Regions from separate parts of the Homo sapiens genome. Here regions 1 and 3 are each linked to region 2. Evidence: fine-mapped expression QTL. A gene starts in region 2. Each other region holds a variant in brackets. All regions are shown on one strand. Distances are from middle to middle. Region 1 overlaps BAZ2B (bromodomain adjacent to zinc finger domain 2B). Region 2 holds the start of BAZ2B-AS1 (BAZ2B antisense RNA 1). Region 3 overlaps BAZ2B (bromodomain adjacent to zinc finger domain 2B).

Evidence for each region. PIP is the estimated chance that this variant, and not a neighbour inherited with it, causes the effect. A credible set is the group of variants that fine-mapping cannot tell apart.
Region 1: its variant is the best candidate, but not a certain one, in a credible set for the expression of BAZ2B-AS1 in whole blood (TOPMed, PIP 0.76).
Region 3: its variant is the best candidate, but not a certain one, in a credible set for the expression of BAZ2B-AS1 in whole blood (INTERVAL, PIP 0.51).

What each region holds. Positions count from the first base shown.
Region 1 is chr2:159,592,451-159,596,677 of GRCh38, forward strand. All of the region lies in intron 1 of BAZ2B (bromodomain adjacent to zinc finger domain 2B), which reads right to left. Among named protein-coding and RNA genes, the nearest start is that of BAZ2B-AS1, 21 kb to the right of the region's middle. The variant C/T (reference allele first, on the strand shown) is at 2,150.
Region 2 is chr2:159,613,378-159,617,604 of GRCh38, forward strand. BAZ2B-AS1 (BAZ2B antisense RNA 1) reads left to right here and starts at 1,917. Exons shown (of 2, transcript NR_110588.1): 1 at 1,917-2,076; 2 at 2,373-4,227. It overlaps BAZ2B (bromodomain adjacent to zinc finger domain 2B), which reads right to left and starts at 3,171. Exons shown (of 37, transcript NM_013450.4): 1 at 2,865-3,171. RefSeq lists enhancers at 1,122-1,650, 2,707-3,233, 2,861-2,940, 3,191-3,260.
Region 3 is chr2:159,554,541-159,558,767 of GRCh38, forward strand. It overlaps BAZ2B (bromodomain adjacent to zinc finger domain 2B), which reads right to left. Exons shown (of 37, transcript NM_013450.4): 2 at 1,283-1,325. Among named protein-coding and RNA genes, the nearest start is that of BAZ2B-AS1, 59 kb to the right of the region's middle. The variant G/A (reference allele first, on the strand shown) is at 2,024.

The DNA of each region.
Region 1 (4,227 bases), 21 kb before region 2:
TATCATGACTTTAACAGATCTTTTAAACTGCTTGTTCTTTTTCAAGTTGCTCTATGTTCAAATTATCTTCTTTCCTCTTTCACAACATTCTCATTCTAAAAAGAGACTCTGTCTCTCTCTCAACTCTCACCCACTCACTTTGGTGGAAGCAAGCTGCCATGTCAGACACAGCACCATGGAAATGACCATGTGATCAAGAACTAAGTCCTCCCACCAACAGAACAGGGACAAGGAAAAAAGGCGTGCCAAGAACTATATGAGCTTGGAAGCAGATCTTCTAGCCCCAGTTGAGCCTTGCAATGACTGCTGCCCCAACTGACAGCGTGACAGCCACCTCTTGAGAGATCTTAAGCCAAAACCACCTAACTAAGCCACTACGAGATTCCTGAACTACAGAAACTCCAATAACAAATATGTTTTACCCTGTTAAGTTTTGAAATATTTACTAAACAGAATTAGATAAATTGATAAAGTATCTTATTCATCTCTTTATTCCCTCTCACCCCAACACTGAGTTCCTTGCCTGGAGAAGATACTTAGCAAATAAATGATGAAGCAAAGCCTTAAGATTTGTGATGCAGTTTGGCCAAAACTCATGCCAAATGGGCTTACTCTACTGCTAAGGGAAACAAAAATTTAAGCCCCCAACTCCATATGAAAACTAAAGTAATAAAAAGAAAATACATGTTCACTTAATAAAACATATGATATGCTAATCTGTACCATCAGAGAACAAAGAGTATGTCCAAAATCTATATTTCCACCTTTAAATCTATCATTATTTTCCTCAGTGATCATGCAAACTTTGACCAAATCTCTGTATTTTATCTTTGTAGAATCTGGAATGTACTTCTATGTATTCCATCAGTTGAAATCTTACCCCTCTTAGGATAATGTTCCTGCGAGGAAAAATTATGGAAGACTTTAACAAAGGGAAAAAAAAGATTATGTCCTATCTAGGGCATCATACCAAGTTATCTGTCCCTTTCACTATCCTTTTTGTTTTGGGGGTTGTTTTTTGTGGTAAAATACACATACCAGTAGTCCCCACTTATCCACATTTTCACTGTGAGGCTTCAGTTACGAGCAGTTGGCCAACGTCCAAAAATATTAAAATGAAAATTTTAGGAATCAACAATTCACAAGTTTTAAATTGTGTGCCATTTTGAGTGGCATGATGAAATTTCATGCCTTCCCCCTCAAACCTGCCTGGGACACAAATCATCCCTTTGTCCAGCATATCTACTCTATAAACGCTACCTGCCTGTTAGTCACCTAATAGTTGTCTAGTTATTAGATTGACAAAACATAGTCATCCACTGGGGGTTAGGCAGCATCCACTGAGTGTCTTGGAACGTATCTCCTCGGGGACAAGGCAGGGACTACTGTAATATAAAATTTGCCATTTTTGCCAGTTTTTTAAAAAGCCTACATTCTCCTATCCAAGTACTAACCAGGCCTGTCCCTGCTTTGTTTTAGAAATTAGAGATCGAGCACATACTTTAACCATTTTTAAGTGTACAATTAGCTGGCATTAAGTTCATTCACAATACTGTGCAACCTCCACCACTATCCATTTCCAGGCCTTTCAATTCTCTTTGAACTAAATTCTCAGACAATAAAAACACTGAACTTCTAATATTCTGCATGTGCATTAAAAAACAAAAAGTCGGCCGGGCGCGGTGGCTCACTCCTGTAATCCCAGCACTTTGGGAGGCCGAGGCGGGCGGCCTACCTTGTGGTCAGGGGATCGAGACCATACTGGCTAACACGGTGAAACCCCGTCTCTACTAAAAATACAAAAAAATCAGCCAGGCGTGGTAGCGGGAGCCTGTAGTCCCAGCTACTCCGGAGGCTAAGGCAGGAGAATGGCATGAACCCGGGAGGCGGAGCTTGCAGTGAGCTGAGATCGCGCCACCGCGCTCCAGCCTGGGCAACAGAGCGAGACTCCGTCTCAAAAAAAAAAAGTAATTAGAAAAACTAAGTATTTTAGTTTTTAATCTTAAGAACCCAAGTTTACAAAAGAAAGGTAAATCTTTGGCAAATGGGACTAATTTAATACATTCTAATTTTAAAAATTTATGGCTTTAACCAATCGGACAAGCTAGCATTAATCCTTAAAGTTTACAACATGAAACAGATAAATTCT[C/T]ATGTTCAAGTAAATTGAGTCATTATTTTGACAGTTTTTTTTTTTTTCTTGACATGTAATCTTGTTTTGTTGCCCAGGATGGAGTGCAGTGGCGTGATTATGGCTTGCTGCAGCCTCCGCCTCACAGGCTCCAGGGATCCTCCCAGCTCAGTCTCCCAAGCGGCTGGGACTACAGGCGCGTGCCAACATACCCAGTGAATTTTTTGTAGTTTTTGTAGAGACAGGGCTTCACCATGTTGCCCAGGCTGGTCTCAAACTCCTAAGCTCAAGCTGTTTGCCTGCCTTAGCCTCCCAAAGTGCTGGGATTACAGGCCCAAGCCACCGGGCATGGCCCAACAAATTTTTATTTCAACAGTAAGTATATTTTGCAGCATGGCAGCTTGAAGATAATTTTCAAATCTTTAGGTAGCCTAAAACCTTGGACTGATATTAAATAATTATTCAATGCGTAATAACTTCTAAGCAAAATACTGAAACATTGATTACTATGCATCCTTTTAAACATATACTTTTTTTTTTTTAAACGGAGTTTTGCTCTTGTTGCCCAGGCTGGAGTGCAATGGCATGACCTCGGCTCACCGCAACCTCCGCCTCCTGGGTTCAAGCGATTCTCCTGCCTCATCCTCCTGAGTAGCTGGGATCACAGGCATGCACCACCACACCTGGCTAATTTTGTATTTTTAGTAGAGATGGGGTTTCTCCATGTTGGTCAGGCTGGTCTCAAACTCCTGATCTCAGGTGATCTGCCCACCTCGGCCTCCCAAAGTGCTGGGATTACAGGCTAAACATACACTTTTGTTTCTTGTTTTTATATACTAATGACAAGCTGTTTTAGGTCATGTTAGTGGAAATGTCAATTTTTGCCACTTTAAGAGGCGAAAAAGAGGTATGCGTGCTGTAAAAAGTGGTGTTGTGTGTGCTCATGAATTCTACTAGTCTGCTAAAATGCTGGTATATGACACAGTTCTCAATTATTCACCTCCAACTTTTCTCTGTAAAACAGAAATTAGTCACTTCGACTAAAAGTTACAATTAATATGATTCATTGAAATCTGTTATGTAAGTTTAGCCTAAAGCTGCCTCTTTACATATTTTAAATTCAACCTAGAGGCTTCTCTGTACATTCTGAACTATATCTAACAAGCGGAGGTACTATCAGTCCATAGCCCACTCTTGTGCCAATCACCCAGTTTTGGCATATCAAATGTGGCCAACTGTTCCAACTGTGTTTAACTAAGGCAAATACCAAGCTGTAACCAATCCAGCTATTTCTGTACCTCACTTATGTTTTCTGTATGTCACTTCCTTTTTCTGTCCATAAATCTTCTTCCACCACTTGGCTACGCTGGAGTCTCTGAGCTTACTCTGGCTTGGGAGGCTGCTTGATTCGTGAATTTTCTTTGCTCAATTAAACACTTTAAATAAATTTGGCTGAAGTCTTTCTTTTAACAGACTATACCAGGAGCAACAATGACATGGAATCACAGCTCGGTATGTGCATTTATTTTAAAGGAAAAGGAGTAGTATTGTCCTAAAGAACGGATTCTTGTGCATTTTGGTCTCCTGGCCTCTTTACACTCTTAGGACTTGTTGAAGACTCCAAAAGAGTTTTCATTGTACATAGGTTGTAAGTCTTGATGTTTACCATATTGGAAATTAAGACTCAGAACTATTTTAAGCGCTTATTTACTGTTTCATTTGAAGACAACAATGATTAATATATTGCATTTTAGCAAATTTTAGTATTTTTATAAAAATATGCGTGACACCACAGATCCTGTTAGAAGCACGGCCCTAAAGTTTGTTCAAGAATATAAAAGACAATGAAGGACCTAACCTAGAAAGTAAATTTGTCTTGATTTATAGCAGCTAACATAGAAAAGAAGCTACCAAACATTTTATTTTTGTTTTTTCTCCATTTATTTATTTTTTTCTATCTTTTAATTTTTTATTTCCATAGGGCATTGGGGAACAGGTGAGGTTTGGTTACAAGAGTGGTGATCTGTGAGATTTTGGTGCACCCAACACCTGAGCAGTATACACTGCATACAATTTGTAATCTTTTATCCCTCAGCCCC
Region 2 (4,227 bases):
TTTCTCTCCAACCATTATAAGAACACAATATTAAGTTCTCATAAATAACTTTGTATTTTTAAAGCATACAATCTGATTTTCTAAAAAAAAAAAAAAAAAAGACTCTTCATCATCGTAGGCTTAAAATAATTTTAAATTCAACCACTTGTTTCAAATACTTGTAAAAATTACTTTTTTCTATCTGAACCATACGAGTGTCTTAATGTTGTCCAAATTACTGATTATGCAGCAGAGTGACAATAATATGTACAGTGTTTACAATAGGTGTGAGACATCAAATGTACTTAACTACCATTTTCTTAAACTGCTTATCCTCTGTTGCTTGCCATTTATAATCTGCCAAATCTTCTAGTCCTTTGTTGCATGTATAATTTAGAACCATCTGTTCTATGTGCTTTTAACTATTTAAACATTTTTCACCTACCTACAATTCACATAAATGGCAGACACTCAACTCAGTCAAGCTTTCTATATAGCATATTACATGAAGCAAATTCCTGGATAAATAGATAACACCAAAGAAGACTGCTACAGAAATAAAAACTTACCATATAGAACATAAATTTCTGTGTGTTACACAAACCTTTTCAATGTATTCAGAATTGTTTCTATTAGCTTTTTTTAAGTTAATTGTAGTCAGTGTTTTTCCCTCAACCCAGAAGACAAAGAGAATGCAAATTAAATACAGACAGTTTCATGTCCTTGTTAGAAGAGATGTAAATATGCTGACTGAAAATGACTACAGGAGACAGAATTCCACTTTCCCATTCAATATACAGTGCCTCTTATTTATATACTAGTCAGTGTATCATTAAGCTTGGTCATGTGACCAAACCAACTTTTGTGAGGCGAAAAACTATGTTAGACAAGCAAATTAAAACAGTGCTAGTTTTTGTTTATCTGTTCATAATGGCTGACAAAGAGTTTATAGCTAGCGATTATAAAATAACTTTTAAAATCAATTCTGCCTCTTAAATACTCAATAATTGTTTGACTTAATATCTGCTACTAAATTTTAAAGTATCCATTATCTTAAGGTATTTTCCATAGTCATTTCTTTTCAAAATGTAAATAAATAATAGAAAAAGAAAACCCCAGAACATTTTATTAGAAACGGGGAGCCAGATAATCTAAAATAACCATACATAAATATTAACCAAGCTAATTTTCAAAAAATCCATAAGGGAGAGTGGAGCAAATAAGAAAGGGAATATACTGACTACAGATAACAGTTGAAACCTTTAAATTAAAAAAAAAAGTACACAAAAACCAGATAAATAACAAATGACGCACAAGTTTTTTACCATTTTTTGCATATAATCTTCCACCTGTTACCAAAACATACAATACGCAGACTTCGTATACTGATTTTGAGAGCAAAACACAAAAATAAGCCACACAACTTATCAGTAACCTGTAAGTTACACAATCCTATAAAACAGGAGAAAAATTAAGCAAAAAATTTACTCTTGGGAAAATTTCTCCGTAAAGTTTACATGACGTCACTGGGCCCCCTGAACATTCCCTAAACTTTGAGACTTATCCAGACACACTTCCTAATACTTCTTTCCTTTCCTCAAAAATAAAAAAGAGAGAGACTTGGGAATAAAATTGCCCAAGATGGCGAAACGCTTGTTGTTTAGAGGGCAGGAAAAAAAATGGAGGATATTGTAATATACACAAAGGGATAAATTTCAACAACTCGGCCAAGGACTGCAGCTGCTTCCCTCTTTATAAGGAAGCAACAGACAAAAGATAAATACAGAGGGAGAAAGAAAAGAAGAGAAAATCTCCCAAACAACAGAGCCAGCTCTGACTCTTCAAACACTTCCTTCCCCTTCTCAAATCCCAATTCTGGGGTTCGTGAAACTACTTAAAGGGGAGGGAGCCGCGAAAGAGAACGGGGGCTGGGGGGAGGGGTAGCGACAAGAAGATTAAAAGAGGGAAGCAGAGGAGTTGGGAGCTGGCGGTCGTTCCCGGGGAAGAACTGCTAAAACATGAGACCAAGGCACAGACCTTACTGTATGAGAAGCAATGCTCCTCAAACCTTCTGCGTGCTGACATAGACCTTCCCAGGTATCCAGATCTTTTCCCAATCCCACCTGCCCCACCCCCACCCCCGCTCATCTTCAGTAAACTCAGAGCCTCCAGCTACACACGGGAGAGCTAGAGGCCCAAGCCGGGGAGTGGGGGTGGCAGACGCAGCTCGTCAGTCCGACAGGGAAGAGGGGGCGGAGGCAAAAAAGGGCAGCAGGAGGCGGACGGGGGTGGGGGGTGATCCAGAAACTACCCCGGCAGGGAGTGGGGGAGCAGCGGATATTCCGGGGTAGGAACGGCCATCGCAACGCTGACAGAGGTTGTTTTTTAAGAAGCAAAACTGTTGGCGGCGACCTGAGCGCTGGAAGCCGAAGGGGAAGAGGAAGGAGACGCGAAGCCAGGGCGGCCGGCACAAAGGCGGCGGACTCGCGGCGGCAGCGCCTGCCCGGCCGGGAGCACAACCCACGGCCCTACTCCAGCGAAGTCCCGCACCGGCTTCTAGGAATAAAGTTTACGTTCTCCTGAGGCCGCACCCCCCACCTCCCACCCAGGACGGCACATCTCCGTGTCCTCCTCCCCCAAACTCCACTCGGGACCCCGAGAACCACCCCAGCCTTCCGGCCACCACAACAAAGAGCCGCACCGACCGGCGAGGATAAACAGCGGCGGAGGGCGAGAGGGCGGCGGGGCGAGCGCCTCCACGCAGCAACTCCGGAGTCCCCCGCTTGCCCGAGCGCAGTTTCTCCGCTGCTGTTTCCACCGGCTTTGTAACACTGGGAATTTACATCCTCACCCGCACCCCTCACGCCCGAGGATTTTAAACTCACCTTTACTCTCGAACTGAGAGTTGCGGTAGATGGGATTTTTGCCTTTTCCCCAGATGGTTGAAGGTTAAGATTTTTGGAAACCCCACCACCTCCTTATTTCTATTATTATTTCTGCAAGAAAAGTATAAAGAGAGTTGTAGTGGAGGTGAGATTTGTGATCGGGAAAGCCTTCGACTCCCTCCTTCTCCGTCTTCCGCCTCTCTCTCTCTGATTAGTTCCTATCCAGCAGCAGATTGAAGCAGGAGATGATTCTTCTCAAGGTTTGTTCAGCAGCTTCACTTCTAGGCGAAGGCTTCATGAACCAAGTGACGTCAACCAACAAGGCTTCTCTCTCTCTCCTCTCTCTAACAATGAAAGTTGCTGTTAACAAGGGAAAAAAAGAGAGAGAATTGTTTATACCATTTCAGTTCCAATAATAAATGACCTATCAGCTCCTAAAGGAGCCAAGGGAGGGGGTTGCTTCTTCTTTCCAAGAATACTGTAGCTTTGAGTTTGCACCGTTCCTTGTCCCAGGAAAAAGTTAAGAAACTTAAAATGTTTTGTTTTGCTTTTAAAGAAGACAGGACAGAAAACGGGATTTAAAACTTAGTTTTTAAAAAAACAAAAGCTACAGAGTAGGGAGCATAGGTCAACCATCTCCACCTAAATTTTTTTTGTTCCTAAACTCAGAATTCTACAACCCAACTAAATTAATATGCCAAGATTTTGCGGATGTTAAAACTCAAAAAAAGCAGTATGCAAGACGGTCCCGGGGTAAAATTCTACTGCCTTTCCACGGACAAGTTAAACTGGCTGTAATGTTTATGCACTAAGTTAAAATAAAATTTAAATAAAAGACGTTAAAATAGTCGTTTTAAAGTTATATGCACACACTGTAAAAGGTAATCTCGATAGCTTTTTTTCAAGTTTCTGAGAGATTAGAAAAAAAGCATAGCAAATTGTAGGCACTGAACACTTTTTAAAAATCAAGTTATGAGTAAGACTGGTAGCCCTTTGCTCCTTTAAACTACAAATGCAGTCATATGCTATGGTCTACCCCCAGAATCTCTTCCAACTTTGTTTTTACCCTTCCACTCCCCCAACCCCAATTCCCAAATCCTGCAACCAATCAAGTTAAACTAAAGATACAATAGGCCCCATTCCCTCCCGCACCCCATCCTATAGATTCCTAAAAACAATTTTTTTAAAAGCCTTAATCTTGATAACACTTTATTAGCCAAGAAGATACGTATTTTTTTTTTTAGAAGTTCGTTGAGGTACCGTTTTTTCCCTCCAGAACACAAGAAAGTCTCAAAGTTCATATAATTAAAAATTGCATAATTTAATTTTCAGGATGAAGAGTAAGTAAAAATTAAGCTATCGG
Region 3 (4,227 bases), 59 kb before region 2:
ATAAATAAAATTTCTCTCTAGTCTCTGCAAAATGTTAAACTTAACAAATGAACCAGTTTTCAAAAAAAAAAGATTGAACATAAATAAAAACATTATTGATATGTGAATTTATACTTCTAATAATTAATGCTTCTGGATTTAATGAGTTAAATTAAAACAGTTGAAGAAGCAGGATCATGGAGTAAATAATTTGGTAGAAATTTATTTATCTGTTATTTAAGAGAATTTTTCAAAAATGATATAAAGTTCATGATTGTAATTCAGATTTTATCACTTAGAATTTTCTAATGTGGATAAAGGCCCTGGAAAAGTTTTTCTTTAGGTAATATATGTCCTTACACACAACAGAAATTAACACTTAAAATAAAATTAAAAAGTATCAGTTACTTAAGAGAACCATCCTTTTATCAAAAAACTCTCCATATCTGGAAGACTCTATAAATCCTATAAATATCAATAAAAAATTTAAGCAAGATGCCTAAAAACTCTACCAAGGCTATATATATGTGGTATGTGGTGTATGTGGGGGGTGTGTGTGTGTGTGTGTGTATTTTTTTTTTTTTTTTTTTTAGAGATGGAGTCTCTCTATTGCCCAGGTTGGAGGGCAGTGGCACAATCTCAGCTCACTGCAACCTCCACCTCCCGGGTTCAAGTGATTCTCCTGCTTCAGCCTCCCGAGTAGCTGGGATTACAGGTGTGTGCCACCATGCCCAGCTATTTTTGTATTTTTAGTAGAGTCGGGGTTTTACCATGTTGGCCAGGCTAGTCTCGAACTCCTGACCTCAGCTGATCCACCCACCTCGGCCTCCCAAAGTGCTGGGATTACAGGCGTGAGCCACCGCGCCCAGCCTACCAAGGCTACATTTTCATAATCTTTCCTTAATAATTCATTACAATCTCAAGTAATTTACTTTTATATATATTTCCTAATGTGGAATCACCTTAACCTTTCTGTCATTTTCTGGTAAAAATAAAAACTCAAAAAAGATGACGTTCAGAATTTAAGTCACACTGAAATAATTTAGTATATTTAGGCCTGTAATTTCAGTTGTAAATTAAAAGTAATTTTCATTTTAAATGTTTTTTAAATCCTTTAAAGTAATATTTTAAAAGTATTTAAATAACTAGCTAGAAGTATAAGATATGATTCATTTAAAATGTTAACATTCAACTGGCTAGCAAAAGAAATAATAATTTCAAATTATATATGTTTTCTAAGTCAATTCTCATTCTCAGAGAAAACCAAACTTCCTTAAAAGCTTAACTATCATTTTGGTCTTACTGTGATCAATGTGGTCAATCTTGTGACATCACTGTTGGGAAACCTGCAATAGGAAAACAAGAATTAGCAATCAGCTGAAGCATACTTAAGAAATTTCAGAAACTAAAAAGTTTGTTTAAAATTTGTGTCTTTCTTCATGCTGTAAGTCATATTGAAATTAACCTACGGTATCAGGGTCCATATAATCAGTATGACAAAAATAAGCATAAAAGGACTGGAGTTTATTTATAGATCATTATTTATTATAGTATGGCAGATCATGTTTTTGTTTATAATCACCAACACCCTAGGGTGAACATAACATATTAAAAAACAAGCTGTAGGACATTTGGGTTACAAGTTTTATTTGTCTTCAAATTACGTACTCAGAAGAGAAAAACAATGTCTTAAATACGTCACAAACTGAAGACAATTAGGTATTATTTATAAATACTTTTCTGTCTATGATTATCAGTACAGATTAGAACCAAAATGTCATCTACTTAATACTGGAGACATTACCACATGCTAATATTTATGAATAGCGACAAAATTATCAAAAGATTGAAAATATCACTGGGAAGAATTTAGAACAGGAAAAAACTATTTCCTAAACTGTAAATGGCTTCAAGTTTATCCCTGTGAAATCTTAATTTTTGGAATTTTTTGTTGTTTTTTCGAGACAGAGTCTCAATCTCACCCAGGCTGGAGTGCAGTGGCGCGATCGTGGCTCACTGCAACCTCTGCCTCTTGGGTTCAAGC[G/A]ATTTTTGTGCCTCAGCCTCCTGTGCAGATGGGACTACAAGTGTGCACCACCACACCCAGCTAACTTTTTGTATTTTTTGTAGAGACAGTGTTTCGCTATGTTGGCCAGCCTGTTCTCAAACTCCTGGCCTCAAGTGATCCACCTACTTTGACCTCCCAAAGTGCTGGGATTACAGGCATGAGCCACCGGACCTAGCCTGGAAATTTCTTTATTAACAAGGTCTAATTTGAGATGAGCCCTTAAATGTTTAGTATCAAAAAGTAACACATGGTTATGGCATTTTAAGGTTCATAATGGACTTTCATGTATTATTTTATCAGGTCCTCATAACGAATCCTTCAAAGGGGCAGGAAAGAGATATTCCTTATTATAGACTCCAGGAAAACAGAATTTAGAAATGATACATGACTTGTCTAAGCACAAAGAACTGAATTTTTCCTGGTTTCTCTTTTACCTCAGACCTTTCACCTAGTCTGTCCTACCAACTACTCTTCGTCACTCTATCCTTAATTTTACCTTACTACTTCATGATTACTGGCTCTCCTATGTTACCATTATAGCCTCCCTACTTCTATTCTTTTTTTTTTTTTTTCCCTGCCTCAGCCTCCTGAGTAGCTGGGGACTACAGGTGTGTGTCACTACACCTGGCTAATTAATTTTTTTTTTTTTTTTTTGAGATACGGGGTCTCACCATGTTGCCCAGGCTGGTCTCAAACTCCCGGTCTCAAGTACCTACCTCTGTTCTTAAAGCAAGTTAATCAGATCACATCATTCCCTTACTCAAAATTGTACAATGGCTTTAGCAGCTCTTAGAATAAAACCCACAATACTTATTATCATGACCTCTTAGGCCCTCTGTTACCTGGTGCCCTGACTGCATTTCCTGCTTCTACCATGTTCCAGTCACAATCACCCTTTTGATAATCCCCAAACATATCAAATTTGTTCCACTTCAGGGCCTTGACACTTGCTCTTCCCTCTGCCTGGAGCAATTGTTCTCCATATCTTCATAGGACTGGTTTTCTCACTTCAATCGGGTCTCATAACAAACGCCACCTCCTTAGAGAGGCCTTCCTTTACCACCAGAGGCTGCTGTTAGCTTTAACTCCATGAAGGAAGATCACTGGAGCACAAGTTTAGTACCTGGAACCCAATAGCTAATTAGCTACTGAATGAATGAGTGAACAAGTATTTATCAAGTTCCTACTGCATCCAGCATTATGTCAAGAGCTACAAAGGATCCAAAAGAAAGTTTAAATAAAAACTCTTCAAGAATTACTATCTATTTAAAGAAAATATGCCATAACAACTTGGTATACGTTTTTAAGTCACTGCAAGAAGCATTTGGGAAGCTTAAAAAAAAAAGCAAGGCAGGGGGTGATGGGAAAGCGCGGGTAGTGAATTAAAGGTGTATGATAATGAGGGTCTGGATAGTGAAGAAGAGGAAATGCAGAGGGAATGGGAAACCCAAATCTTAAATGGTGAAACCAGAAGGCTTCATGCTAAACTAAGTATTAGGAACAAGGATAGCAAAAAAGTGAAAGATTACTTCAAAGATTCTCACTCACATAATGAAAGAAATCTGAAGTGGCAGGGTGGGGTGACTTTTATTTAGAACAATAGGACAGGCCAGTGTCACCATAGGCCATTCAAATGAAGACGCTTCCCACCAGCAGGTAGAAATTTATTTATTTATTTATTTATTTTTTGAGATGGAATTTTGCTCTTGTTGCCCAGGCTGGAGTGCAATGGCGCGATCTCAGCTCACCGCAACCTCCACCTCCCAGGTTCAAGCAATTCTCCCGCCTCAGCCTTCCGAGTAGCTGGGATTACAGGCATGCGCCACCATGCCTGGCTAATTTTTTTTGTATTTTTAGTAGAGACGGGGTTTCTCCCTGTTGGTCAGGCTGGTCTTGAACTCCTGACCTCAGGTGATCCGCCTACCTCGGCCTCCCAAAGTGCTGAGATTACAGGCGTGAGCCACTGTGCCCGGCTCCAGCAGGTAGAAATTTAGAAGAGTTCAAGATTTGAAAATCAGTTATATAAAAGTACAGTTCAAGCCAAGACTGTGGGCAAGTTCACCAAGGGAATATGAAGAAAAAAACAGAACAGCCAGCATAATTTGGCAGAGACCTATAAGTAGGGCCCATGGGAAATAAGAGAAGTGGAATTGCAGGGTTTTTTGTTTTGTTTAAGTTCAAGA